2 separate regions of the Homo sapiens genome follow, and region 2 is linked to region 1. The links come from fine-mapping of genetic effects on gene expression. A gene starts in region 1. The other region holds a variant in brackets. All regions are shown on one strand. Distances are between the middles of the regions.

The links.
Region 2: its variant is fine-mapped to the expression of SCN1B in unexposed skin (GTEx, PIP 0.98).

Annotation. Positions count from the first base shown.
Region 1 is chr19:35,026,493-35,034,820 of GRCh38, forward strand. It overlaps SCN1B (sodium voltage-gated channel beta subunit 1), which reads left to right and starts at 3,978. Exons shown (of 6, transcript NM_001037.5): 1 at 3,978-4,368; 2 at 6,036-6,202; 3 at 7,007-7,247. The coding sequence starts at 4,329. RefSeq lists silencers at 3,948-4,107, 4,447-4,555.
Region 2 is chr19:35,477,967-35,486,294 of GRCh38, forward strand. No RefSeq gene overlaps it. Among named protein-coding and RNA genes, the nearest start is that of KRTDAP, 8.3 kb to the right of the region's middle. RefSeq lists a silencer at 6,763-6,852. The variant C/G (reference allele first, on the strand shown) is at 4,242.

The sequences.
Region 1 (8,328 bases):
CTGGGAGTGGGTGGGAGCCTCCTGTTGCACTCAGATCCTGCCATGGTGGGGAGGGGACCTCTGTCTGTGTTCTGGGGCCATAGTCACTGAAACGATCTGGAATTCCCGCAGCATCTTACACAAGCTTTACATCATCTGAGGTCAACGCAGGAACTCCGGGGACAGACCGTGGTAGCTGGAGTTCAAATCCTGCTTCCTAGCAGTGGTGTAAATGCAGCAGGTCAGCCCCCTGGAGCTCCAGTGAGCTTTCCTGTGCAATGGGTAGAATGGCAGTAGCTGTCTCTCAGGGTTGTTAGAAGGCAGTGGTTCTCAAACTTGAGCTGCATTCGAATCTCCTGGAGAGCTTGATGAAAAACAGACTGTGGGCCCCTCCCTCCAAATTTCTGGTTCAGTAGGTCTGGGGCAGGGCTGGGATTCTGCCTTTATAACGAGTTCCCAGGAGTTGCTCATGGTGCCATCCCAGACGACACTTTGGTTTTTTGTTTGTTTGTTTTAAGTTAGGGTCTCTGTCGCCCAGGCTGGAGTGCAGTGGCACAAACATGGCTCACAGCAGCTTCGACCTCCTGTGCTCAAGCCATCCTCCCACCTCAGCCTTCTGAGTAGCTTGGACTACAGGTGTAAGCCACCACGCCCGGCTAATTTTTTATTTCTTTTTGGAGATGGGATCTCACTGTGTTGCCCAGGCCAGTCTTGAACTCCTGGCCTCAAGCGATCCTCCCGCCTCAGCTTCCCAAAGTGTTGAGATTTCAGGCGTGAGCCACCACGCCCAGCCCCAGACCACACTTTGAGAACCACTATTATAGGTTCAAGGAGTTCATAAATGTGGCTACTTATAACAGGGCCCGGCACAGATGGAATGGAGTAAGTATTCAATAAATGTTACACTTATTGCATAAAAATAGAGGGAAAAAAGTAACTCGCGTAGTGAGTACCAAGTACGTACGTACCCAGCTCTGTGCCAAGATCTGATGTTCATTTTATTCTCACAGTGATTCCATGAGGTGGAGACAAAGATGTACACGCCCGAGGCTACCCAGCAGGGAGGCAGACTCCAGGCCTGACCCCTGGGGTCTCCACATTTACATGCAAGGTCCTAACCCCCTCAGGACCCCACCACAGCCCATTCAGGCTGACGTTGGTTGGATTCCTGTTTTACAGATGAGGAAATGAGCTTGGAGGCAAAGTCCCTGGTCCAGAAAGAACCCAGGTCCACCTCACGCAAACCTTGTCCTGGTTCCAGAGGGAGTATGTGGGGTAGAGACACCTTTGGCATGTCACACCCCCGGCTATAAGAATCATCCTAACTGATGGCTTGGAGCAGGGGACTGGAGGAGGGTTTGGAGAGTGGATCAGGAGTGGCATAGGAGGCAGAGCCAGCCTCTCCTATCCTCTAGTTGTGTGATCATGGCAAGGTACCCATGCTGAGCCTCAGTCTTCTATATCTGTAATATGGGTGTAATAATAATACCACCTATAGGAAAAATTAAATGAGCTAATGTTAGTAAAGTGCTTAGAATGCTTAGAACAGCACCAAGCCCATACATAGTAGGTGCTCACTGAACATAGCTTATAGGGCCGTGAGGTGCCTCCTGTCCAGTGCTGAGGCCTGTCCTCACTGTGCCTTCACCTACCATCCCCCACCAGTGGAAGGGCCCGGAACAGCAAGAGGGTTATTCTCTGCAGGGGAATTTCACAGCTCAGAAGGTGCTGGCGTAAAAGTCTAGACCACAGAGGTGTCGGATGTCCCTGGCTCCCTGCCCCTCTGCCATGGTCCTGCCCCACACCCTGGCTCCTCTTGCCTGGCAGGGCTGGGCCAGGGGGATTCTGAGACCTTACCCCACCCGGAATTGGAGGCTAGGATCTGGGTAGTGACCCTTCAGCCGAGAGTCTCACTCCCACCCTGGTCCTGACAGCCCAGAACTCCCATCTCCATTCTCTCAATTTGGCAGAACCTACTGGTAGGACAGGCCACTCACCACTGCTGGGGCAGGATTCCACATCCATCCTAGGCCAGCTACATGACTCTGGGCAGGGGCACGGCCCTCTCCCAGCCTCAGTTTCTTCATCTGTAAAATGGGGATAATAGAACTTGCTGAAGGTTTGGGGCAGTAGAAGTGGGTTCTGCAAATCCCAAGGACTTAGTGAACATTGGCATTCATTTATTTGTTTGACAAATATTGATTGAGTACCTACAATGTGCCAGGAACAGTTCAAGGTGCAAGAGACACAAGACAATATCCTCACCTGGGAGATTTTTTTTTTTTTTTTTTTTTTTTTTTTTTACATGGAGTCTCACTCTGTCACCAGGCTGGAGTGCAGTGGTGTGATCTCGGCTCATTGCCACCTCTGCCTCCCGGGTTCAAGCGATTCTCCTGCCTCAGCCTCCTGAGTAGCTGGGACTACAGGCATGTGCCCCCACGCCCAGCTAATTTTTGTATTTTTAGTAGAGATGGGGTTTCACCATGTTGGCCAGGATGGTCTCGATCTCTTGACCTCGTGATCCGCCCACCTCGGCCTCCCAGAATGCTGGAATTACAAGCGTGAGCCACTGCGCCCGGCCTTTTTTTTTGAGACGGAGTTTCGCTCTTGTTGCCCAGGCTGGAGTGCAGTGATGCGATCTTGGCTCACTGCAACCTCTGCCTCCCGGGTTCAAGCGATTCTTCCTCAGCCTCCCAAGTAACTGGGATTACAGGTGCCCACCACCACTCCCAGCTAATTTTTTTTGTATTGTTAGTAGAGACGGGGTTTCACCATGCTCGTCAGGCTGGTCTCGAACTCCTGTCCTCAGGTGATCTGCCCCCCTTGGCCTCCCAAAGTGCTGGGATAGCGGGGGGCGGCTCACATCTGTAATCCCAGCATGGTCAACATGGTGAAACCCTGTCTCTACTAAAAAATAAAAAAATTAGCCAGGCATGATGGTGCACACCTGTACTCCCAGCTACTTGGGAGGTTGCGGCAGGATAATCGCTTGAACCCGGGAGGCGGAGGTTGCAGTGAGACGAGATCAGCCACTGCACTCCAGCCTGGGCAACAGAGCCAGACCCTATCTCAAAAAAAAAAAAAAAAAAAAAAAAAAAAAAAGAACATAATGTCAGGTAGTGAGGCTGCTGTGGAAAACACTCAACAAGAGGTAAAGAGTAAAGGAGGTCAGGTTAGGAGCGGGGAAGGCAGTTTACCCTGAAGGGACACAGAAGACCTGACGAAGGTGACATTGGAGCCATGGAGGCCCACGGAGAGGGGCGGGGCAGGGGGGGAGAGCCGGGGCAGAGGGGAGAGCTGGGGCCAAGGCCCTGAGGCAGGAACGGGTTCCCTGTGTTGGGAACAGCAGGAGGGCCTGAACAGCCAGAGTGGAGTGGGAGGAAAGAGGGGTAGAAGGTGACATCAGGGACATAAATGGGTGCAGGGGATCACGAAGGGGTCCTCCTCCTGAAACAGCACCTCCAGATTCCCGGGGCTGCTTCTCTCCAGGGTGCCCCGCCTGCTTGGGTGAGGTCCGGATTGTAGCTGTAGTCCTAGCCTGACGGCCCCCCACCCTCCTCTAATGCCTACTTGGGGTCCCTGCACATTGACCCCCAGGCCTGGATATCAGGGCTCAGGGGAGATAACTTGGAGGTTCGCCCTCTGGAACTCCTGAGGATGACCTCCATCATTTGAAGTCGGAAACCCGGCCCCCAAACTGCGCTCTAAGTCCTCCTGTGACTCTGGGGGTGACCTTTCCAGACTCCCTGGGAAGGTGGGGGGGGGGGGGTGGTCCTCAGAGCCCCAGCGGGGTCGGAGACACACAGACCACCCTCCCCGTTCCCAGAAGTCGCGGTCCCTGCGCCACCCGGAGAGGCCGGTGCAGCGGGCGCCTCCCGGGCCGCTGCGGCAAAGGCTGGGCGGCCGCGCCTTCCCCCCGCGGTGATTCATCCCGCCCCCTCCCTCTCCTCCCTCGTCCCTCCCTAGGCCGCCGCCGCCGCCGCCGCCGCCGCCGCTGCAGTGCGCAGGAGACCGCGGTCCGCGCCCGAGCGCGCCCGAGCCGGAGCGGGACCGGGGTCGGTGCACCTAGCGGATGTGCCCGGCTGCGCGCGCCAGCGCAGCAGCCCGAGCAGCGGCCGCCGCCCGCGCGGCGGGGATGCCCGGACGCCGGGCCCCGGGGCTGGGCCCCCGGCGGTAACCGGAGCGGGGGGGCCGCGCCCCCCCTCCTCCCCCCTCGCCGGTCCCAGAGCCGCAGCTGCTGCGCCCGCGCGCTCCCGGGGACATTCTAACCGCCGCCAGGTCCCGCCGCCTCTCGCCCCGCTATTAATACCGGCGGCCCGGGAGGGGGGCGCAGCACGCGCCGCGCAGCCATGGGGAGGCTGCTGGCCTTAGTGGTCGGCGCGGCACTGGGTGAGTGCGCGGGGGGCGCGCGCGGCCGGGGGGCACCGCGGGGGCACTGGCGGGGCGGCGGGAGTGGCGCTCGGGACACGGGGCAGCCGCGCGAGGGCCACCCCCGGCCCATCCCCGGGCCCCGCCAAGTCAGCTTCAGAAGTTGTGCGCGCGGGAGCCGGGCTTGGGGAGGGCAGTGGAGGTGAGGGTGGGCTCCAGCGGGTGGGGGCCGGGCTGGCACAGCCTGGCGGCTGCAGGCGCCCAGCCGGGGGCGAGGAAACGCGGAGTCAGCTGCTCCCGGAGCCCCGCAGGCTGCAATGTGACACCCACAGCCGCGGGAGGGGGGTGGGGGGAAGGCGGCGCCCGGAGACTGGGACGGGAAAGACGGAGGGACAGGGAGAGATGAAGACGGGAGGAAGGGGGCGAGAGACAGAGAAGGACTCGGAGCGCACCGGAGTGGTCCGCTGGGATGCTGGGGACATGGGGGTCAAGGGGGAGACGGAGACAGAGAGAGGGGTATTGGAGAGAGAGAGAGAGAGAGAGAGTTAAGAGACTGAGCGCGATGGAGAAAGGGAAACTTGAGAAAGGCAGAAGGAGATGGAGAGAAGAGAGAGGGAGATGCGGGTGCCCGTGAACACCGGGAGAGAATCTTGCATGGAGTTTGAAAAGGGATAGACGTAGAAAGGTGGAAAGAGATTAGGAGAGGTCTCCTTCTGAGCCCAGAGAGTGGACAAAAAGTGGAGGGACCTTCAGAGAGACCCCTGAGAGGGACAAAGATAGGAGGGACTGAGACAGAGGCCCTCAGGGAGTCTGAAAGGGACCGCAGGGGAGGCGGATGGATGAGAAGTCCTGAGGATCAGGAAACAAGGACAGCACAGGGCTGCAGCAGAAGAGACACAGCGTTAGCTACAGAGTGCTGGGAGGCAGAAAGGAGGTGCCAGGTAAGAGTGTGAAGGAATTCTAAGACTGGAATTCAGTGGGCTGCAAAAGCCCTGGGGCAGGAGAGAGCTCAGGAAAGCTTTGAGTAGTGGATGGGGTTGGGGTGGGAAGAGCTCTAGAGGCGAGGAGCCTGGGGAAGAGGGGATGATGGAGGCAGGAGAGGCCGGGGAGGGGATGGCTCACACAGGGGCTTGTGGGCTGTGGAGAGGGGCTGAGTGTGGGTCAGCCCCGGTTTCAGTGCCCACCTCCCCACAATCCCCCACCCCCAGACCTTTTCTCCCAACCCATTTCTCCTGGAGCTAGCTGGTTTTACAATTTAATGGTGAAAATGACTGCCACCTTAAACTTCTAACTTAGCTGGAATTCTCATTCTACCACCTAGATGCTTGGGTTCCTCCAGCAAGGGACTTTCTGAGGAAGGGGCACTCGGGTAGCATAAAGTCTGAGTTACCGGCAACGTTGACAGTCCCACTTATGGGGCCTCCCATGTACAAGGCCCTACCTAATGTATGAAAATGGGCCCAGCCATTGCTGGAAGCAAAGGACCATTTCTTTCAACAAGAGAGAGGGAAACTGAGACTCAGGGATGAATGACTTGCTGAGGTCACGCAGTGAGTGACAGGGCTCAGCCTAGCATCCAGTCCTGTCTGCTGGTAATCATTGAGGGGGGAACAGATGGTTTGTGAGGGGTCTGGCATTGCTTAGGGCAATGGGTGCCTCTGCCTGACCTGAGCCTGCTGTCCCCACAGTGTCCTCAGCCTGCGGGGGCTGCGTGGAGGTGGACTCGGAGACCGAGGCCGTGTATGGGATGACCTTCAAAATTCTTTGCATCTCCTGCAAGCGCCGCAGCGAGACCAACGCTGAGACCTTCACCGAGTGGACCTTCCGCCAGAAGGGCACTGAGGAGTTTGTCAAGGTGTGCGGGTGCCGGGAACGGGCATGGGAGGGCAGGGGTCCACGAGTGGGAGGCGGTGGGGCTGGATCTCAGGGAGGGGGCTTATTTGTTTAATAATATGCTGTGATTGCTGACCTGGATTCAGATTCTGGCTCCACCAGTGGCCAGCTGGTGACCTTGGCCAAGTCAGTGAGCCTCTCTGAAAGTCAGTTTCCTCCTCGGTAAAGACGGGGTGGCGGTGGTCTCTAGCCCATAGGTTTGTGTGAGGACTGAATGCATTGACGCACCTGGCACACGGTTGGCATGAAATAAATGTCAGTGGACTTATTTGGCACCAGCAAACAATGTCTCTGATAGTCATTACGGAGGGAAGACAGAACTGTTTTTTTTAACCTCCTTTAAACTATGTGTGTATTTTGCATTATATATCGGTGAGGGAACCATAAAATTCTGTGACGTGCTGGAGAGTTGGGGTCTCCAGCTGCTGGAATCAGGCTGCCCTGTCTCTGCTGGAGGAGTGTGTCTGGTGGCTGGGAAAGAACGGCAGAGAATGATAGCCTAGAGGCCAGATGGGGCTTGGGAGGATGACTGAGGAACGTGTGTGTGCTCGTGTGCATCTTGGCTAGAGGCAAAAGCGGGGTCTGGTTGACTCCAGGCGTGATCCTAGCCCCCCACCCCTGTGCCCTCCCTGCCTGAGGTCAAGGTGTCTGAGCCCATCTGTGTGCCATCTGTGTTTGTGGGTGTCAGGGCAGGGGACAGAATCAGGGTCAGGTAAGGGAAGAGAGGCCCAGGCAGTGACACCTTCCCCTCCCTGGCTACCCCTAGATCCTGCGCTATGAGAATGAGGTGTTGCAGCTGGAGGAGGATGAGCGCTTCGAGGGCCGCGTGGTGTGGAATGGCAGCCGGGGCACCAAAGACCTGCAGGATCTGTCTATCTTCATCACCAATGTCACCTACAACCACTCGGGCGACTACGAGTGCCACGTCTACCGCCTGCTCTTCTTCGAAAACTACGAGCACAACACCAGCGTCGTCAAGAAGATCCACATTGAGGTAGTGGACAAAGGTGAGTCGGGTGCTGCCTGCCCCTTTACCGTCACCCACCGGAGAGCCAGATGGAGGGACAGATGGCAGGCAGTGGACAGGACAGGCTGGCTCTGTGCCTGGCCAGCCAACCGCCCACAGCAGCGGGCTGAGGGGGAGGGGAGCAGCCCCTCCTGCCCACTCCAGCTCTGGCCTCTGTTTCTCTCCAGCCCACGGAGAGGTCAAAGCATGCCTGTCCCCCACAGACGCTCCGGGTACAGAACCCAGCTCTGTCACCTGTGCTGTATGACCTCTGGCAGGTGCCTTCTGTCTCTGAGCCAAAGGGTTGTCCTGGGCTTGCCCGGGATAATAATCCGATGTGTTTCTCGGGGTGTGGTTTGAGCCATTCTTCCATCATGGGGTTCATGAGGATTGAGCAGCTGCAGGCACACGCCTGGCTTCCAGCAGAGCCTTGCAGGTGGTGGCGAGGGTGGCGGTTCTTACTGTTCGAGTAGCTCAGCCCTGCTGCCCTCTGTGGTGATGAGGCAAGAGAGCGTGCCACCTAGAGCAGAGTTCCGCACACCCCTCTGCACTCCTGCCCCGGGGGAGCCGCGCTGGCCTGCAGTCTCACTCAACACCTCTGGGGCGGGCCTAGGGGTCCTTTCTAAAGCTCTCAGGTGAGGCAGTGAAGGGCCACAGGTGCGGGGCCCACCCTCTGAGCAGCAAGGGCCTACAGCGCTTTTGAACGTCTCATCATTTTGCCTCAGCCACCCTGGACCCCTTTTCTGAGGGAGGTCCGCCCCTTCTCTGATCCATCTTCTGCTCAGCATCAATTGCAATTGTCCAGCGCCCTGTGGCCACTGGCTTAGAGTTGGGGAAACAGCCCAGGCCTTGAAGCAGCTACAAGCCGTGGCAGAAAGGTCTCTCAGGGCCACGGCACACACATCCTCATGGGCAACACGCACTGCCCATCTTTTCTGTGAGATGGGTGCCGGCCTCAGTGCCTTACACGGAGTCCCTTAGTGAATCCTCTCCCCACCCTCTGGGGTAGGGGCTCTTCCTATCCCCATTTTACGGATGAGAAAACCAAGGCTCAGGGAGGGAAGGTTATGTGGCCAAGGTCA
Region 2 (8,328 bases), 450 kb after region 1:
CCATCATAGCTCACTGTAGCCTTGAACTCCTTGGGCTAAGTGATCCTCTCACCTCAGCCTCCCAAGTAGCTGGGGCTACAAGCATGCACCACCATGCCTGGCTAATTTTTTCATGATTTTTTGGAGAAACAGGGGTCTCACTATCTTGCAGAGGCTGGTCTTGAACTCTTGGCCTCAAATGATCCACCTGCCTTGGCCTCCCAAAGCACTAGGATTATAGATGTGAACCACTGCACCCAGCCAACACAAGAAACTAAAATAGTTAAAAATTCTAGGGCTCTGAAATCTAATAGAACCTGAGTTGAAAGCCTGGCTCTGCTATTTCTTCTGTGGGTGCTCTTAGGAAAGTCACTTCATCTTTATGGGCCTCAGTTTCCTCATCTGTCAGAAGAGAGCAAGTGAATACAGTTGCAAATATTATTTCTCTAAGTATGACTCTATCTGAGTCATTATCTAAGTGGAGTTTTATAGCATAATAATAACAGCTACCTTTTATTAACATGAAAAAATCTAGGCTAACATTTACTGAGGTTTTCTAAACCCTTGTGAAGTATTGCTATTATTCCCACTTTACAAATGATGAAACTTTGGCCCTGACAGAGTAGCCACCCAGAGGTCACGTAGCTAGTAAAGTGGTAGGAACAGAATTTGAAATCAGGTCTGACTGATTTTATAACTCATATTCTAACCGCTAAGTTGTACCACCTTAAATGCCTCCAGCGGATACTTAGCAGTGGTTTCCAAACATTTTTTAAGGAATGGAAACATTTTTTTTTTCAAGCAAAGTCTTAAATGAAACAGTAGGTTATAAAGCAAGTGAAGGCCAAATTACACCAGTTAAAGCAGGGATAATGCAGGTACGGGTTCAATCCTGGCTCTGCCGGGTCCTGGCTGTGTGAGCTTGAACAGATTACAGTCTCCGTCATCACTTAATGGTGGAGATACGTTTTGAGAAATGAAGAACAGCAGAGTGCACTTACACAAACCTTTATCGTATCGCCTACTCCACACCTAGGCTGTGTGGTATAGCTTATGGCTCTTAGGCTGCAAACCTGCCCAGCATGTCACTGGACTGAATGCTGCAGGCAACTGTAACACAATAAGCATTTGTGTTTCTAAACATAGAAAAGGTACAGTACAAATATGATATAATCTTTTGGGACCACTGTTGTTTATGCCGTCTGTTGTTGACCGAAACGTCATTATACAGAGCATGACTGTACTTATCTCTCTGAGATTCAATTTCTTTGTTTGTAATATGGGGATAATGATGCCAACCTAATAGGTTTGTTTTGCGGATCAACTGAGATAATATATGCAAAGCACTTGGCATAAAGCCTGGCGCGTGATAAGAACCAAATTAAGAATGGCTGCTATTGAATTGTGGCTGTGGCTGTTACCACCTTCGGGACTGTCTTTACTGACGATGGGATTGAGTGGAAATTTTTCAGCCCCCCATCATCTGACCCAACCTGCATTTCCAGGCCTCCACGCCTACGGGATAGCCCGGCTGAATGACAGCGTTCCCAGTCCAGAATCCCGCACTACCAGTTCTTCGTGCTCTGCCCACTGGAGGGCCCTCTTCCCCCCTCCCTCCTCTAAAAGCATACTCTGGAAATTTTTTGAATATTTTAAGAAACTGTTATTGTAGAATATTTCAAAATTTGCAAAAATAAAAAGCTAGTATAATGAACCTCGTTTTTTATTAGGTAATTACCGACCTTATTTCTTGTGTACCCCAACCTGTTCCCCCCACTGGATTATTTTGAAGCAAATCCTAAAGAGTTTATTACTTCAGACATAGATTTATCATTAGGTATCTGCAAGGTAAAGACTCTTTTTTAACATAACTACAATAATATTTTCACATCTAAAAATATAATTTCTTTTTATTTTTTTTATTGTTTCTTTTTTTTAATTTTTTTTTTAGAGACGGAATCTCACTATGTTGACCAGGCTGGTCTTGAACTCTTGGACTCAAGCAATCCACCCACCTCGGCCTCCCAAATCAAAGAGCTGAGATTACAGGCGTGAGCCGCCATGCCCAGACCAAAGATGATAATGTCTTATTATCAATATGTCCGTGTTCAGGTTTCCTTCGTTGTCTCCTAAATCTTTTTCTCTCCCAGTTGGTTTGTTCAAATTAGGATATAGACAAGATTCATATGTTGCATTTAAGTGATGGGTCCCTTCAATCAACTTTTTTTTGAGACTGAGTCTTATTCTGTCACCCAGGCTGGCATGCAGTGGCACAATCTTGGCTCACTGCAACCTCTGGCTCCCAGGTTCAAGACATTCTCCTGCCTCATCCTCCCGAATAGCTGGAAATAACAGGTGTGCACCCCCACGCCCGACTAATTTTTGTATTTTTAGTAGAGACAGGGCTTCACCATGTAGGCCAAGCTGATTTTGAACTCTTGACCTCAGGTGATCCACCCCCCTCGGCCTCCTGAAGTGGTGGGAATACAGGTGTGAGCCACCATGCCCGGCCTCATCAATTTTTATCTTTTTTTCCCCTTTCCCTTTTTTTCTACAGTGGCTTTTTTTTTTTTTGGATGGAGTTTCGCTCTTGTTGCCCAGGCTGGAGTGCAATGGTGCAATCTCGGCTCACTGCAACCTCTGCCTCCTCCTGGGTTCAAGCAATTCTCCTGCCTCAGCCTCCCAAGTAGCTGGAATTACAGGCATGTGCCACCACACCTGGCTAATTTTGTATTTTTAGTAGAGACAGGGTTGCTCCATGTGGGTCAGGCTGGTCTCGAACTCCTGACCTCAGGTGATCTGCCCACCTCAGCCTCCCAAAGTGCTGGGATTATAGGCGTGAGTCACCGTGCCCGACTCTTCTACAGTGTTTTTGTTGAAGAAGCTGGATTATCAGTTTTCTAGAATTTCTCACAGGAAATGCCAAGGTTGGGGGGAGTTATTAACATCTTTCCTGTAGAATCCTTTACTGTGTTCCTCTGTGCCTTTTCATCCCCCTGCAAACTGGTAGTTAGATCTAGAGTCTAGAGTTTTAATCAGGTTTGGAGTTGATTTTTGGCAAGAATGCTTCCTATGTGGGGCCCTGTGCTTTCTGTTGCATCAGGTCTGCAGAAGCTTGTCTCTTCTCTCTCTGGGTGTTGGATAGATACATGGGTTCACTGGTTGTGAGCCTGATCCACCACCATAAATTTCCCCATCAGCATTTCACCTGCCGGGTTTGGCAGTCATTAATGTGAAGGGATTAGCATGTGCTACTCCAAAGTATGCTGCTTTAGCATAAGGATTATTTTGAGTAGAAGGCAATTAAGAAGCAGCAGACAGAAGAGGAACTCTCTGTCCTCTCCCTTTCTGCCTAAAGCAGGGTATACATTTCCCATCAGGTAGAGGAGATAACTCAACGCTGGAGACTTGAATCTGCATAAGCAAATCTTGCTAAATAACCCTTTATCTTCCATTAATTTCCCCTGTATATTTTACTTACCTTCCCACAATTTACATCACCTGGATGTCCAAATCCCTTTTTCACCGTTTTGTCACTTTTCCACAATTTTTTTTTTTTTTTTTTTTAGACAGAGTCTCACTCTGTCGCCCATGCTGGAGTACAGTGGTGTGATCTGGGCTCACTGCAACCTCTACCTCCCAGGTTCAAGGGATTTTCATGCCTCAGCTCCTGGGTAGTTGGGATTACAGGTGTGCACCACCACACCTGGCTAATGTTTTTGTATTTTTAGTAGAGATGGGGTTTCACCATGTTGGCCAGGCTGGTCTCGAACTCCTGACCTCAAGTGATCCGCTTTCCTCAGCCTCCCAAAGTGCTGGGATTACAGGCATGAGCCACCATGCCCAGCTTACTTTTCCACGATTTATCACCCTTTGTTAAAACGGTATATGAGCCTCAAGCCTGGCCACTTCTTTAGGTTTTCACTTCTTTTCTGTGAAGCTCCTGGATGCATGCATAATAAGCCTTTTCTCCTGCTAATCTATCTTTTGTTAATTTTTTTTTTTAAGATGGAGTCTCACTCTGTCGCCCAGGCTGGAGTACAGTTGTGTGATCTCGGCTTACTGCTACCTCTGCCTCCCAGGTTCAAGCAATTCTCCTGTCTCAGCCTCCTGAGTAGCTGGGACTACAGGCATGCGCCACCATGCCCAGCTAATTTTTGTATTTTCAGTAGAGATGGCGTTTCACCATATTGGTCTGGCTGGTCTCGAACTCTTGACCTCAGGTGATCCACCTGCCTCGGCCTCCCAAAGTGCTAGGATTA[C/G]AGGCATGAGCCACTGTGCCTGGCCTCTTTTGTTAATGTAATTAGCATGCCACAGCCACTGAACCTAAGACAGTAGAAAAAAATGTTTTTTTCCTTCCCTACAGATGCTAGCCTACATTCATTATTTTATTAAATTTTGAAAAACGAAAATATTCTATTATTTCTTTTGCATTTATTAGTTTCAAATTCTCGTATAAAGAAAAATTGTGCCAGCTGGGCATGGTGGCGCATGCCTGTAATTTCAACACTTTGGGAGGCCAAGGCCAGAGGATCACTTGAGGTCAGGAGTTGAAGACCACCCTGGGCAACATAGCAAGACACCCATCCTACAAAAAATTTAAAAATATACCAGGTGTGGTGGCTTGTGCCTGTAGTTCCAACTACTCAGGAGGCTGAGGCAGGAGGATTGCTTGAGCCAGGGAGGTGAAGGCTGCCTCCAGCCAAGATCATGCCACTGCACTCCAGCCTCGGTGAAAGAGCAAGACGCTGTCTCAAAAAAAAAAAAAAAAAAAAAAGAGAGAGAGAGAGAAACTGTTTACCCTGAAGTATATAGTTCATAGAGGAAAGTAAGGATGAATCCTTGATTCATTTCCTTTATTTACCAGTTTTTTAAATGAGTTGATTCCCAGAAGCCTCCCAAAGTAATCACTTAGTTTGGCTTTGGTTTTTAGTCCCTTTATGTCCTGGCTGAGTATGACAGGGACTTTTTTTTTTTTTAAGTTCATTTATGAATGCCAAATTCAAAGTTACTTTCCCCAGTTTTCTTACCCTGGTGCAAAACTATCTCCTCCCTTCTGTCAGATTTAAACATATCGTTCTAAGGTATCTAGTGCCTTCTCCCTGGATGCTTCCTTTATCGTAAGTATCAACTGGATCATAACTCCTTGAAGGCCTTCTGCATAGCACTCAACATCATGCCCAAGGCCGTGCTTCTCAAACGTTATTCCACATGTGAATCATCCAGGGGCAGGGGTCTTGTTAAAATTCTGATGCATTAGCTCTGGGTGAGCAGAGCTTCTGCATTTCTAGCAAGCAAGCACCAAGTGATGCTGATGCCGCTGGCTCGGGGACCACACTCTGAGTAGCAAAAGGGTGTGGTAAATGTGAGAAATCAGTTTCATTCATTCAGTTAAGAGGCACCTACTCTGGGTCACTGCATGGACTAGGCCCTACCACTTTACAGTGCAAAGCGTTTTTTTGGTGTTTGTTTGCTTTACTAGAAAGTTTTGATTTTAATTTATTCTTTTGAATATGTAATTTGCACATGGTAAAACATTTTTGTTCATAAAATCCAAAAGGGTACACAGTGAAAGTATCTAACTTTTCAAAAGTTATCACTGTTACTTCTCAAGTTTTATTCCAGATAATAGCAGATAATATGCAGATAATAGCATATATTTGTACCATATCTTTATTTTAACCACATGGCAGCATAATGATCTGCCACTTTCTTTTTTTCATTTTACTCTATCTTGGAGATTGTTTCATAGCTCAGTGTATATCTCTACATCCTGTTGAACAGATGGTATAGTATCCACACAAGATTCATTTGTTGGCCAGGCATGGTGGTTCACACCTGTAATCCCTGCACTTTGGGAGTCCAGTGCAGGCGGATCACCTGAAGTCAGGAGTTCAAGACCAGCCTGGCTGACGTGGCAAAACCCCATCTCTACTAAAAATACAAAAATTAGCCGGACATGGTGGCGGGCACCCATGTAGAAGATGTAATTCCATCTTCTCAGGAGGCTGAGGCAGGAGAATCGTTTGAACCTGGGAAGCAGAGGTTGTGGTGAGCCAAGATTGCACCACTGCACTCCAGCCTGAGCAACAGAGTGAAACTCCGTCTCAAAAAAAAAAAATGCATTTGTTATTGTTTTTATAAAGTATAAAATGAAGAGTGACTACTTCCTGCCTTTTATTAAATAAAGGTTATTTAATAAGATTTGCTTATGCAGATTCAAGTCTCCAGTGTTGAGTTATCTCCTCTACCTGATGGGAAATGTACAGGTCATCCCCAGGGAGAACAGGTGCTATGTCTTCCATTCTTTGAATCCTCTGAATGGCCTGACCCATGTTTGTGCATTTTGTCAATTTCACATGATCTAGCTAGTATACATCTGTCACTCATGTGCACAGCTTGTCTACACTTCACTTTGTCTTTTTCTTTTTGGTTCAGATTGCAGTCTCTCTAGACTCCAATTGTTTCTTGACTGTGTATTCTGTCAGCACTTGCAAATTGATCTGGTGTTCTCTGGCTTTAATAATATGTTATTGTGAAATACAACATGCATAGGTGTGCATAAAATGTACATATTTAAAGAAGAAATGAAACATGATATAGAAGTGGCTTCTGTCACACACCGTCCCCCCTTATCTCCTATGTGCCACTCTCCTATCACATGGGATCTCTCCATCTAAGGGGCAACTACTATCCTGATTCTGGGTTAATCTTAAGTTCTCTGACGTTCCTTTTTGAAGTGGTTCTCAGACTTTAGTGAATCAGACTTGCTTAGAGGGCTTGTCAAAACACAGATTGCTGGGCCCCACCCCTGGTTTCGCACTTAGTAGATCTGAAGTGGGGCCCAAGAATTTGCATTTCTTTTCAGTTCCCAGGGGATCCTGGTGCTGCCAGCGTGGGGACCACACTTTGAGAACTACCGCCTTATCTCAGAGATACTCTTAACTTGTGTATCGTGACTCCTAGTCCCCTGGGGATGCTTTACTCCTCCCCTAAAACCTAGTCACTCGATGGGTGTCCCTTAAGCACCTCCCCTCTTCTTCCTGTACTCCATTTCCTATCACCTAGTTTGTGAGTGCACAATCTTCACTAAGTATTTCAACTGATTGTGGCATTTCACCAGTGTCCATAGTTTTCTTCTCTGTTGGTTATTCCATTTATAGCTTTCCTCTCCTTTGTGTGTATTGGAAGGAAGAGCATAAGCAACTTTTTTTTTTTTTTTGACAGAGTCTTGCTCTCTCACCGAGGCTGGAGTGTAGTGGTACAATTTTGGCTCACTGCAACCTCCGCCTTCCGGATTCAAGCGATTCTCGTGCCTCAGCCTCCTGAGTAGCTGGGATTACAGACATGCATCACCACACCCGGCTCAGTTTTGTATTTTTAGTAGAGATGGGGTTTCACCATGTTGGCTAGGCTGGTCTCGAACTCCTGACCTCATGTGATCCGCCCACCTAATTTTGTGTTTTTAGTAGAGATGGGGTTTTGCCATGTTACCCAGGCTGGTCTCAAACTCCTGACCTCAAGGGATACACCCACCTTGGCCTCCCAAAGTGCTGGGATTACAGGTGTGAGCCACCGTGCCCGGCCAGGAACATTTACATGTCTCATTCACCTGGTCTGTAAGCGCCTTGAAAGTAGGAACCAAGTTTAATTTCCCTTGTAGTCCACTTCCTCGATTAAACTGCAGTTGATGGTTTACAAACGCAGTTGCTTATAAAGGCCAAAGGCAATGTAAACAAGTGAAGCTTGCCAAGTAGAAAGTTCCCTGGAAGCCATGTCCTGTGTAAAGAGGGCAGCTGCTACTTGGCTTTAAGCCAGTCGCAGGTCCACTGTTCTCTAATCTTCCCAGTTTTCAAGAGAAACCAGAAACAATTCCAACTAGTTTAGTATTTTAAGTACACAAATTGGGTCAGAGAAAATACATCTACAGGAAGCAAAACTAAATCCATTTCATGTTTCAAGATCTTTGCAGTGGATGGATGGATGGATGGATGGATGGATGGATGGATGGATGGATGGATGGATGGGTGGGTGGATGGGTGGATGGGTGGGTGGATGGCTGGGTGGATGGATGGATGCGCGAGTGAATGAGTGAATCTGGATCATTGCGGCTGCTCTCTGGTTGAAACTGGGGGAGTAGAGATACACTATCTACTATATGCCTGGCCGTGTGCAAGGGGCTTTATATACTTATGTCATTTGACCTTCATAACAACACCACAGAGTGGTTATCATTCTTATTTATCTCCATACTCATTTCACGGATAAAGAAACAGAGGCTTAGGAAGACTCAAGGTCACGCTGCTAGTTTTCTTTATTTAGAGCCCACCTAATTCCAAAAAAAAAAAG